Linked DNA regions of Homo sapiens. The protein of the gene in region 4 interacts with the protein of the main gene of each other region in a pairwise test. Each region holds a gene or a part of one and is shown on either strand. Other genes may lie near its edges.

Evidence for each region.
Region 1: the proteins of WASL (region 4) and ROBO4 interact in a two-hybrid assay, tested with the Homo sapiens proteins (one study listed by IntAct).
Region 2: the proteins of WASL (region 4) and IPO5 interact in a two-hybrid assay, tested with the Homo sapiens proteins (one large-scale study listed by BioGRID and IntAct).
Region 3: the proteins of WASL (region 4) and FCHSD2 interact in a two-hybrid assay, tested with the Homo sapiens proteins (one large-scale study listed by BioGRID and IntAct).

What each region holds. Positions count from the first base shown.
Region 1 is NC_000011.10:124,885,529-124,887,865, reverse strand, and holds part of ROBO4 (roundabout homolog 4 isoform 1 precursor), read left to right. Parts: intron 1-25; coding exon 26-133; intron 134-366; coding exon 367-508; intron 509-652; coding exon 653-889; intron 890-1,043; coding exon 1,044-1,402; intron 1,403-2,337.
Region 2 is NC_000013.11:98,012,675-98,016,174, forward strand, and holds part of IPO5 (importin-5), read left to right. Parts: intron 1-1,367; coding exon 1,368-1,540; intron 1,541-2,855; coding exon 2,856-2,967; intron 2,968-3,051; coding exon 3,052-3,107; intron 3,108-3,500. UniProt on the Homo sapiens protein: Functions in nuclear protein import as nuclear transport receptor. Serves as receptor for nuclear localization signals (NLS) in cargo substrates.
Region 3 is NC_000011.10:72,890,819-72,894,318, reverse strand, and holds part of FCHSD2 (F-BAR and double SH3 domains protein 2), read left to right. Parts: intron 1-3,500. UniProt on the Homo sapiens protein: Adapter protein that plays a role in endocytosis via clathrin-coated pits. Contributes to the internalization of cell surface receptors, such as integrin ITGB1 and transferrin receptor.
Region 4 is NC_000007.14:123,686,504-123,690,003, reverse strand, and holds part of WASL (actin nucleation-promoting factor WASL), read left to right. Parts: intron 1-853; coding exon 854-962; intron 963-3,500. UniProt on the Homo sapiens protein: Regulates actin polymerization by stimulating the actin-nucleating activity of the Arp2/3 complex. Involved in various processes, such as mitosis and cytokinesis, via its role in the regulation of actin polymerization.

The sequences.
Region 1 (2,337 bases), on a different chromosome or scaffold from region 4:
ACAACCACCAACCCTTTCTTTGCAGAGCTGCAGCATGCCAACAGTTCCCCACTGCTCCGGGGCAGCCACTCCTTGGAGCTCCGGGCCTGTGAGTTAGGAAATAGAGGTTCCAAGAACCTTTCCCAAAGCCCAGGTGAGAGGGGGTCCCTGAAAGGGAAGTGAAGGGGTGAGATAGGGTGTAGGGATGCAGGGGCTTACCAGCCCAGGGCCCTCCCACGGGCTCATCCTCCTTTCCCTGAGGAGGCTGATGAGGGTTGGATGGAGTAGTGGACAGGTAGCTAAGGGGGCTGGTGGGCAGGCCGGCAGGCTGAGCTCCAGAGCAGATGGGGATGCCACTGTTCTCACACCCAGGCTTCTCTTCCCCAGGAGCTGTGCCCCAAGCTCTGGTTGCCTGGCGGGCCCTGGGACCGAAACTCCTCAGCTCCTCAAATGAGCTGGTTACTCGTCATCTCCCTCCAGCACCCCTCTTTCCTCATGAAACTCCCCCAACTCAGAGTCAACAGACCCAGTAAGAGGGCATGGGGTCGGGAAGCAGGGCTGGGAGAGTGGGGGTGTGGGGAGTGTGTGCCGGGATTGGACAGGCTGGGGAAGGGGGGAAAGGACTTGAAGAGCTGTAGTAACTACGGTGCCATCACTCTCTCCCGCAAATCAGGCCTCCGGTGGCACCACAGGCTCCCTCCTCCATCCTGCTGCCAGCAGCCCCCATCCCCATCCTTAGCCCCTGCAGTCCCCCTAGCCCCCAGGCCTCTTCCCTCTCTGGCCCCAGCCCAGCTTCCAGTCGCCTGTCCAGCTCCTCACTGTCATCCCTGGGGGAGGATCAAGACAGCGTGCTGACCCCTGAGGAGGTAGCCCTGTGCTTGGAACTCAGTGAGGGTGAGGAGACTCCCAGGTGAGTAGCTTGAGAGATAACCAAAGAACTACAGAAAAGCTGTGGGGGCAAGCGCCTCTCCACCCATTCCGCCCTCCCTCAACTGGGGCTTTTCTGTTACTACAACCCTCATTCCACCCAAACCATTGCTGTCTCCCCTTTTGCCTCTCCCTAGGAACAGCGTCTCTCCCATGCCAAGGGCTCCTTCACCCCCCACCACCTATGGGTACATCAGCGTCCCAACAGCCTCAGAGTTCACGGACATGGGCAGGACTGGAGGAGGGGTGGGGCCCAAGGGGGGAGTCTTGCTGTGCCCACCTCGGCCCTGCCTCACCCCCACCCCCAGCGAGGGCTCCTTAGCCAATGGTTGGGGCTCAGCCTCTGAGGACAATGCCGCCAGCGCCAGAGCCAGCCTTGTCAGCTCCTCCGATGGCTCCTTCCTCGCTGATGCTCACTTTGCCCGGGCCCTGGCAGTGGCTGTGGATAGCTTTGGTTTCGGTCTAGAGCCCAGGGAGGCAGACTGCGTCTTCATAGGTATGTGAGGTCTCCCCATCTTACTCCTCACTCATGCCCCTTGCCTTTCTAACAACTGTTATCATGTCATCATTGTTAAAACAACTAGTTTTATTGAATGATTATTGTATCTCAGGCACTATGATAAGTGCTTTGCATACATTTAATATTGAAAGTCTATGTGGAATATTCTTTATCTCTCTTATCCTAATGAGGAAACTGTAAGTCAGATAATTTTATTGGCTTGCCCAAGTTCACCCACAGAACAAGGACAAATTGTCCAATTCTTTTTGTTTGTTTGTTTGTTTTTGTTTTGTTTGTTTGCCCAGGCAGTGGCATGATCTCAGCTCACTGCAACCTCTGCCTCCCAGGTTCAAGAGATTCTCCTGCCTCAGCCTCCCGAGTAGCTGGGATTACAGGCACCTACCACCATGCCCAGCTAATTTTTTTGTATTTTTAGTAGAGACGGGGTTTCACCATGTTGGCCAGGCTGGTTTTGAACTCCTGACCTCAAGTGATCTACCCACCTCAGCCTCCCAAAGTGTTGGGAGTATAGGCATGAGCCACTGAGCCTGGCCCAAATTGTCCAGTTCTAAAGGCAGCCAACTGTAGGTCCATTTCCCTGCCTCTAGGACTCCCCTCTTACCCCGACTTGAGTCTCCAGGAAAGGTTGCTCCATCCTCTTCCAATCCCATCCTCCTGCCCTGTCCGTGGCTGGGGCTGACGAGCCACTGGGCTCACCTCTGACATTCCCAGCAGAGTGGGACCTTTATCTCCATGTCAGCAGAAGGTAGTACAGGGTCTTGGCTCCTTGGGTGTCCCTTCCCCACATGCACCATCAGATCCCCCATCCCCATTTTACTAACCTTAACTCTATCCTTTGCCCCGACAAAAAAAAAAAAAACAGGCTTGTGGTAAATGGGAGGGCAAGGATTATCCAGGACAGAAGTGCCCAT
Region 2 (3,500 bases), on a different chromosome or scaffold from region 4:
TTTAAGAGATGGTGTCTCACTCTGTCACCTAGGCTGGAGTGCAGTGGCGTGATCAGGACGCACTGAAACCACAACTTCCCAAGTAGCTGGGACCCAGGTGCACAACACCAAGCCCAGCTAGATTTGATTTTTTTTTTTTTTTTTTTTTTTTTTAAGAGATAAGGTCTGCCTATGTTGCCCAGGCTGGTCTCAAACTCCTGGGCTCAAGCAGTCCTCCTGCCTTGGCCCCACAAAGTTATGGGATTACACACCTGAGCACTGTGCCTGGCAAGACCTGTCTTAATAGATTAGAGAACCACTGATAGATGGTCAGCTTTCTGTAGCAGTGAGAACCCTACATTTCAAATGTGGATAGCACCTTTGCGGGGAAACATCACTTGGCACATCTGCATTCTTTTTTGACACAGGGTCTCACTCTGTTGCCCAGGCTAGAGTGCATGGCACGATCTTAGCTCACTGCAACCTCCACCTCCCAAGTTCAAGCGATTCTTCTGCCTCAGCCTCCTGAGCAGCTGGGATCACAGACATGCGCTACCATGCCCAGCTAATTTTTTGTATTTTTTGTTTGTTTGTTTTTGTTTTTAAGTAGAGACGGGCTTTCACCACGTTGGCCAGGCAGGTCTCGAACTCCTGACCTCAGGTGATCCACCCACATCTGCGTTCCAATATCTTTCTCAACATAATGATAGCCGTAATTAATATTTTCCAGTACATTTTTATGCCTTTACACACGAGAGTGGTAGACAGACACAAACCCAGATCTGTCTGACTCCAAAGCCCGTTTGTCATCATTCCTTTTACGGTATCCTATAGTGGTATCCTTTACAGAAGACAGCTTTTACCCAACAAAGACTTAACTTCCCAGGATGCCAGAGGACAAAGCGGGATTGCTTTTAAGAGGAAGTTATCAAGACCTTATTTTATAAATGAGATTAGATAGGGAAAGGCAATTTAATCTTTATTAAAAACTGAAAAGGCCAGCATAGGAAGAGGTCCTCGGTGGTCTTTTTCAGGGAAATACTTCAGTTGCTTTTATTAGAAACAGATAGTACCTAAGGTTTTGAGGTAGGTACAGCTTAAGGCATGCTAATGGTCATGGGTCCTTCCATAGTCATTTTTGTATTTTGGTTTACATTTGAGCAATAGGCAGCCCTTCACTGCTGCTGGACTCATTCCTGCCACTATTACAGGTGACAGAGGAGACAGGAGGTATGTCTTTTCTATTTTTATACATGCTTTATATTTAACACAAGCTCTTGGGTATCTTAGATAAACAGAAGTTGCCTAGCACTCCTTTTAGTGCATTGAACCCTTTAACATTTAAGCAAAATAATAAACAGTCTTTTGAGGTTCCTTAACAATGAAACGTGTTCGAGTGGCAGCAGCGGAATCCATGCCTCTTCTCCTGGAGTGTGCAAGAGTCCGTGGTCCTGAGTATCTCACACAGATGTGGCATTTTATGTGTGATGCTCTAATTAAGGCCATTGGTACAGAACCAGATTCAGACGTCCTCTCAGAAATAATGCATTCTTTTGCAAAGGTGAATATTTTTCTCTTAAAAAATATGTATAAGGTTGTATGTTCATTTATTAGTCTTGCTAAAAGTAAAAAAAAAAAATTTGAGACAGGGTATTGCTCTGTCACCCAGGCTGGAGTGCAGTGGCGCAATCGCAGCTCACTGCAACCTCCACCTCCTGGGTTCAAGCAATTCTCATGCCTCATCCTTCCAAGTAGTTGGGATTATAGGCATGCACCACCACACCTGGCTACTTTTTGTATTTTTAGTAGATGTTCCTCAGGTCTCAAACTCCTGGCCTCAGGTGATCCACCTCGGCCTCCCAGAGTGCTGGGATTGCAGATGTAAGGCAGCTAAATAAATTTTTATATGCTATAGTGTATGATTTGTTAAAAAATAAAAATGTTAAATTTTTTGTTTTAATATTTTGGTATTATTATGTTTGTTTTAAAGAGGGTAAATTTGCCTTGGAAGGGCAGTATAGGTAGAGGGAATGATATGGGCAGCAGCATGGAAGCATGCATTCTTTGGAAAAAGAGAAGAAATTCTGAATACTCTAGTATTTTAGTCTTGCACTTAATAATCCAACTATAGAAGCTTGGGTATCATCTCCAGTTTCTGTTCTTTACACTTTCCTCAATTCTTCTCTTTTTTTTTTTTTTCATTGCCCCATCTCTTTTTCATGCCATTGAAATAGCCTCACTTGGGCTACTCCAGATGTCTCCTTTCTTTTCCTCTCAGTTCATTCTCCTTTCCTCAAGCACTGCCTTCCTCTTCATTGAGTCACTTCCTTTCTCATACAGTGTCACTCCCATTTTGCACAACTCTAGTTTGCTCCAATCTTGATTGAAGATTTACAGTTTCTCAGCATCTTTATATGTCCTTATTTACACTCCTGTAATTCAGAATTGCTTCTGATTTTCCAAAGACAGCATGCTTCCATACCTTTGCCTATATTTTATTTCTTCTACCTCTAATGCCCTTCCTTCAGTGTTCTTGTATGTTGTGTGTACGGAGTATGGATATAGCAATTGTGTTCCTTAGGAGCTGGTTGTGTGTGTGTGTGTGTGTGTGTGTGTGTTTTCCATCTTTGAATCCTCAGTACCAAGCATGATGCCTGGCACCTAGGTATGCTCAGTAGTGTTCAAAAGAAAATATTTTTTTCTAACTCCAATCTCTAAAATGCTGTCATTCTAACAAATACAAGCTAAGCATATGTAAATAATCTTCCAGGATACTGAACTGTGTTCATTTTTCCATATGATTCTTAGTGGAGTTTAACTTTGGACTCCAAACACCCCAAATCTTATGGATTGCTTTCTTTCCTCAACCTCATTAGTGCATTGAAGTAATGGGAGATGGATGCCTTAATAATGAACACTTTGAAGAACTGGGAGGTATATTGAAAGCAAAGCTTGAAGAACATTTTAAAAATCAAGAATTACGACAAGGTAAGTTTTCCATGCTTTTATTTCTGAATATAATCCTTGACCATCTTGGCAATCATTTAAAACATTTATTTGGGTGTGTTTTAGTTAAAAGACAAGATGAAGACTATGATGAACAGGTCGAAGAGTCACTACAAGATGAGGTAAGTTATTCCCTTTGGAACTTACTTACGTGACCACTTGCATCTGAAAGACTTGTAAATGCCTCAATTTCTGATTTATGTGACTTGTCATTCTGATGTAATTATCAGTCTTTAGCAGAGGAGTCAGATATATTTCCTCTCTTAATTTATGAATAAGTAATTTGAAATTAAACTGATATGTCTTTCGGTGCTATGTGCATTTTGTTGTAATACCTCACTCAACAAAACACCTTGAGGTTTACCTAGTTCATTTACATACTGCTCACAACAACCATTTGTATTTTGTGGTGCTTTCACTATATTAAAGATGAGTAACCTAAAATTCCAGTGTTAAATGATTGCCTAGAGTCACACTGTTGACGGTCTGGGGCCTTTTTCACCATGTTACTTAGT
Region 3 (3,500 bases), on a different chromosome or scaffold from region 4:
TCTGCCTTGGCCTACCAGAACACTGGGATTGTAAGTGTGAGCTACTGTGCCCAGCCCCAGTATATTTCTTGTCTCTCAGTAAACTGAAAAATGTAAGTAGTACAAATTCCCTGAATGAGGGTTAACTAGAATGTTATGCCATTGGCCTAACAACCCCAACACTATCTTTTTTTGAAATGGTTTGGAATGCTAGTATTTTACTGTTAGTGATTTTCATTCATCATACATGACCATCTCTTTTTCTCTCCTTGAAATGGTTATATTTTAGTTACAGAGTTAAAAAACTGATTGTTTTCTTCTGCGAAGTCAGCTTTTCTATCGCTGCTCACTCTGCTCAGATATCTGAGCCTTCTATGCCTTTGTATTAACCTTAAAATAAAACAAAATCATATCTTGAGAGAGCATCTAAGGACAAAATAGTTAAGATGACTTAAAGACTAATATATCAAGAATATTGGAATGCTGATTTCCTTAATTTAGTTCTTCAAAGTTATTTAATAACTTTATGAATGTTGAAAAGACTTTATTGTAATATTTTATTCTAAAGGGACTAGAGTTTTTTTTTTTTTTGGAGACAGAGTCTCCCTCTGTAGCCTAGGCTGGAGTGCAGTGCCACGATCTTGGCTCACTGCAACCTCCGGCGCCACCACGCCTAGCTAATTTTTGTATCAAATACATTTTTAAAAGATAAAGGAAAAATATTGGGCTGGGCATAGTGGCTCATGCCTCTAATCCCAGCACTTTGGGAGGTCAAGGCAGGAGGATCATTTGAGGCCAGGAGTTTGAGATGGCCTAGGCAACATAGTGAGATCTCATCTCTACTAAAAATCAAAAAAATTATCTGCGTGTGATGGCATATGCTGTGGTCTCAGCTACTTGGGATGCTGAGGTGGGAGGATTGCTTGAGCTTGGGAGGTCAAGGCTGCAGTGAGCCATGATTGCACCACCGCACTCCAGCCTGGGCAATAGAGTGAGAACCTGTCTTCCAAAAAGAAAAATGTTAAAAGAATGATCTAGGCCAGGCGTGGAGGCTCATGCTTGTAATCCCAGCACTTTGGGAGGCCAAGAACAGGTGGATCACTTGAGGACAGGAGTTCGAGACCAGCCTGGCCAACATAGCAAAACCCCCATCTCTACTAAAAATACAAAAAGTTAACTGGGCATGGTGGTACATGCCCTGTAATCCCAGTTACTCCGGAGGCTGAGGAATGAGAATCTCTTGAACCCGAGAGGCAGAGGTTGCAGTGAGCTAAAATCATGCCACTGCACTCCAGTCTGGGTGACAGAGTGAAACTCTGTCTCAAAAAATTAAAAATAAAAATAAATTTGCCAGCATTTTAAAAAGAAGCAGTCATTACGGTTTCTTTGTTAGAATCGACCACTGCTAATATCACTGTCTTAAAAAAAAAATTACCAGCCACGCACGGTGGCTCACACCTGTAATCCAAGCACTTTGGGAGGCCGAGGCGGGTGGATCACGAGGTCAAGAGATCGAGACCATCCTGGCCAACATGGTGAAACCCCGTCTCTACTAAAAATACAAAAAATTAGTTGGGCATGGTGGCACATGCCTGTAGTCCCAGCTACCTGGGAGGCTGAGGCAGGAGGATCACTTGAACCCAGGAGGTGGAGGTTGCACTGAGCTGAGATCATGCCACTGCACTCCAGCCTGGCCAACAGAGTGAGACTCTGTCTCAAAAAACAAAAAACAAAACAAACAAAAACACAAAAACATAATTATCTATACTAGATCCTGATTTATATTGATCTTTGATAGTGAAGGTGGTATTGGAACATTTCTCTGTGTATTGTTTAATAGCCTGGGCTGTATTCACCTTGTATGAAATTCTCAGTTGTCAAGACCTGTGTCTCAGGAGCTTCCACATGTATTCCATGGCTTGATTTCAGAATTCATGAAAAGGATAAATTAATTTGAGTTTTAGTTTTGTGTCATTCCCTACCCAAAGGATCTCAAAGCCACATCTTCCAATCAGTGGCATTAGTTACCTGTCCTGATCATTGGACTCCCAAGTCTTAGTAGACACATAAAAAATAAGGGAAAAGCTCTATCCTGAGCACAGTGAATACTCAATAAGAAGGTATAAATTCTGTAAGGCAAATTGGGTTATGGCCCATCTGCAGCCAGCACACAATTTAAACCCCTTTACCTATTCCTAAAATGCTGCTCAGTAACAAAAATTAAATGTCTCTATCAGTTGCCTCCTTTCTCATCTAGCTACTCCCTACAAATTCATTCTCTTTGAGATCTGCCTTAATCTTTCAATATATCTTCAATCTTCATTTTGGATTCATTGTTTAGGCTATTAAGAACCTAGGAATTATCTGGATTTTCTTATGAACAGTAATAAGAAAATTTTTGTTTCAAGTAATTTTCAATTGGGTCTTTAACATTAACAGTTACCATTACTGGATGCCTAAGATATTATGTAGATCCTATACCAGAATGTTTAAAATATGACCTCATTATAACCTACCAACCCTATGGAGATAGGTGACATTTTCACTAGTTTTCAGATGTAGCTACGACTCAGATAATTAACATGCCCAAGATCATAAAGCTAGTAGTGCCATAAAATGGCATACAATGGATTCAAACTAAGTCTATCTGACTCAAAAACCTATTCTTGGACTCTTCAGAATTTATCTTTCTACTTTTACAGATCACATTCCTCTGACTTTTGTATATTTCATTTGTATCTGTGTCCAGAGTTTAACACTTTAATATTCCTGACTTTGAGAACAGATGTAAGTTTGAATGCCCAGATTCATTTGCAAAGCAAAATATAATAGTAAAGTTCATTCCCAAACTTCTGATAACCCCAAAAATGAATTAGAATGTAAAATATGAATGTAAAGATGGTTAAGTTTGAATATTGATTATTTTGCTCTATTTCAATTTATTTGTCATTGTTATAATCTAGCTGAAATGTCTGTATAGAACAAAAATTTTTAAACCCTGCCTCATCACAATTCCCCCAACAAAAATATTAATTTTTAAAATCCAGTTTATCAATTTCTACTTACTCTATCAATTTTGAGCTATGAGACCTTGCAAAAGAATTACTAGGCCAGGTGTACTGGCTCATCCCTCTAATTTGAACACTTTGGAAGACCAGGGTGGGAGGATTACTTGAGCCAAGGAGTTCAAGATGTTGAACTCCTATGTTGCCTGGGCAACATAGTGAGACCTTATCTCTAGAAGGAAAAAAAAAAATGAGCTGAGTATGGTGACACACACCTGTAGTTCCAGCTACTCAGGAGGCTGAAGTGGGAGAGTCACTTGAGCCCGGAGGTTGAGGCTGCAGTGAGCCGTGATCAGAATTTCTAAAATTCTTTTCATTCTACAATTTTGCTGCTTTCTATATTAAAAGCCTCTTTGGGTAATTTATATTTTAAAAAAAATTCCTAATTATCTCAATAAAGTTTGTTTTTCTTGGGTCTTTAAGAATTTAGAGAGAATTAAAATAGTTTTGTGTTTA
Region 4 (3,500 bases):
ACCACTTTGAATTTTTTTAAAAAAGGTGTTTACTCCAGAAAGAACAAGGAGTATTAGAGGAAGAATTGTACAGATCAAAATGGAAAGTTTGTCTAAATAAAATTGTCTTTGGGAAATGATTAAGAATTTCAAAAATATATATTATATATGTATGTATTAAAACATAGGTAATTATTTAATACAGCTATGCTGTTTCATCTTTAATTATAATTTTTTTTTTCATGAATGCACTTTGGCACAGCTGGAAGTACTTCAGTTAGGGATTGTTACTTGCCTAGTGAGGCAGGTACATTTTGAAAGTTGATCAACTCATCTCCTTAAAAAGAAATTATATACTATGAGAAAAGAGGTTCATTTTGAAGGTATAAATGTAACATAAAGGTGTAAAGCTGAATTTTTGTAGGCAAATATAAGTTTCTACAGTTGTTTTTCAATATCTTCAGTGTGCGTCCCACGTAACAACTCTGGAGTCTAAGTATTAACCTCTGTTTATAACATGAAATCCCTTGATAAAAGCTTTAAAGTTGATCATCTAAGTCTGTGTGTGCTGGAATAAACAGAAGTAACCCAGCAAGTATTATTCAGGAGAGGGTTTGTTATCTGAATGTAAACATAGATTTGGAAATGTATTTTTGGCTTATACATTAAGATGGAAAGGAAATATTTTTGAATAATATCTTTAAGGCAGCAGTTTATTTCTTGTTAATTTGATTAATCTTGTCCTGCGCTTGCCAGTTTGATATCTTTTTTGTCTTTTACAATAAGAAGTGATTCTAAGAAAGTAGGACTTTCTGGAGACAAAGATTCTTGGCTAAAGATTTATTACTGAGTTTTGCTAACTTTCTTTTCCAAGGTGGCTGATGGCCAAGAGTCTACACCACCAACACCTGCACCCACTTCAGGAATTGTGGGTGCATTAATGGAAGTGATGCAGAAAAGGAGCAAAGCCATTCATTCTTCAGGTAGAGAGAGAGAGAGAGAGAGAGAGAGAGAGAGACAGAGAGAGTGTGCGTGTGTGTTTAATAAATTTGAATGTTTGACGTTCTGTTATTTTTATGACTGTCTTTGCTAGCTTTCTCTCTGCTAATTGAGTAACTACTGATGTGGGCTCTAGGATGTATTTTAAAAAGTTGTTGCCTGTGTGACTAGTCTCTCTGAGACTTAACAAATGCAACACCACCACAGCCATAGCCATAAATTGAAAGAACAGCTTTGGGAATATTGACAGTTTTGTTTCCTATATCAGGAAATGCTAATAGACTTCCTAGCAAACAACCTCTAAACAAAGCTTGAGATTTTTAGATCTCATTCCTGTGACATTACTGTGACATGAAAAATTCAGGGCTGGGTGCGGTGACTCACACCTGTAATCCCAGCACTTTGGGAGGCCGAGGCGGGTGGATCACCTGAGGTCGGGAGTTCGAGACCAGCCTGGCCTACATGGAGAAACTCCATCTCTACTAAAAATACAAAAAAGTTAGCCGGCGTGGTGGCGCATGCCTGTAATTCCAGCTACTCGGGAGGCTGAGGCAGGAGAATTGCTTGAACCCAGGAGGCAGAGGTTGTGGTGAGCCAAGATCGCACCATTGCACTCCGACATGGGCAACAAGAGCAAAACTTCGTCTCAAAAATAAAATGAATAAATAATAATAATAATAAATCGGGCCATTTACCTCATCTGTAAGGATTAGGGATAAGAATTTCAGTAATTTTTACTGTTTCTAGAGTTTGCTAAAGAATACTAACTTTTTTTAAACCTTTCTTTTTCATTTTCTAAAAGGTTGATTTGAAGAAACCAGTACCTATTCTGAGGTTATTATTAAACATATACATACCACCATATAAATATTCCTTTAAAGAAAGAACAAGAATATGAGTTTTGCTGATTGGAGTAGTTGAGGTTTGCTAAATAGCTTCTCCAACATGATGTGCTAGAATCAGATCTTTCTTCTTAGATTTATTTAATCTCTGTGAGCCTCAGTTTCTTGTTTGTTACATTCAGAGAACTCACAAAACATATAGATGTGAGAATTAAATAGTATGTCACTAACCTGCAGATTGCCTAGCACATAGTAGGTGCTTAATAAATGTTACCTTCCTTTTGTTTCTCTGTAAGGATGTCCATGTCTTAAGATCCTTGAGCAATGTTTGTTTTCCTTAAATAGGCATATTTGTACCTACCCTCCATTACAGAGATAGAGATAAATATTTATTGTGGAATAATAATAAAATTTTAACAAAAAAAAAGTCCCTGCCTTCATCGACATGCATTAGGTCTAATGAGAGAGAGAGACAAGCAATAAACAAAGAAAACTAGAAAAACATACAGTATGTTAAATGGTGACATGAAGTAAGGACAAAAGTCTAACAGAAAAGGGAAATAGGGGGCAGACTGTTGAGAGAGAGGTTCATTTTGAAATGATAAAGGATGATAAGGGACAATAAAGCCTAACTGAGGTGACATTTGAGAAAAGACCAGCAGTTCAGGAAGTGAACCATGTAGAAAACTAGGGAAAGTGTATCCGATGGAAAGAACAGAAAATATAAAGTCTGTGAGGTTGAGAAACAATGAGGAGATCACGGAGCTTGCAAGGGAGGGAGGGAAAGAATAGTAAGGAATGAAATACAAGAAGTAGTAGGAGGCCAGTGGTAAGGCTTTGGAGACCCCTGAAAGTGCACTAGCTTTTATTCTGCATATGATGGGAAGCCATTGGAGGGTTTTTAGCAGAGGTGTAGTAATGATCCAAGCAAGAGGTGATGGAGGCTTGAACCAGGTTTATAGCACCAATGAGAAGTGGTTAAATATTAATTATATTTTGAATGTGGAGATCACTGGTTTTGATGATGGTTTGAAAGTGAAGGTTGAAGAAAAAGAAGAGTGCAAAATGACTCCAAGGTTTTTGACTTGAACAACTGGAAAGGGGAAAGACTTACGAAGAAAAAGTTTGAGAGGGAAGATTAGGAGTTTGATTTTACATATTAAATTTGAGATACCTATTAATTCAACTATAGATGTGGAGTAGGCATTTCGTTATGAGTCTGGAAGTCACAGGAGAGGTCTGAATTGTTAAATTGCATGTCAGTAGGATATACATAGACACCTGGTATTTAAAGTTATGGTTATGTTTATGGTATAGTCTTCTTTAGCATAAAAACAGTGAAAATTACCTAAATTCTTAGCCCTAATCCTCACAGATGAGGTAAACTGCCTGAATTTTTTATGTCATAGTAATGTCATAGGAATGAGATCTAAAAATCTCAAGCTTTGTTTAGAGGTTGTTTGCTAGGAAGAGATAAAGAAAGGTCTTCATTCATTCATAAAGAAATGTAAGGCTTCTGTGAACTACATGATTCTGAAAAAGCATTTATTCTATGCTGGTATCTGTGAGTTCTGCTAAATATTTCCCTACAATAAGTTTTTTTTTAATAGTATGTAATAGTCACGCTAATATAATGAAAATATAGGATGGTTTTTACTTATTTTCAGACCCATTTATTTT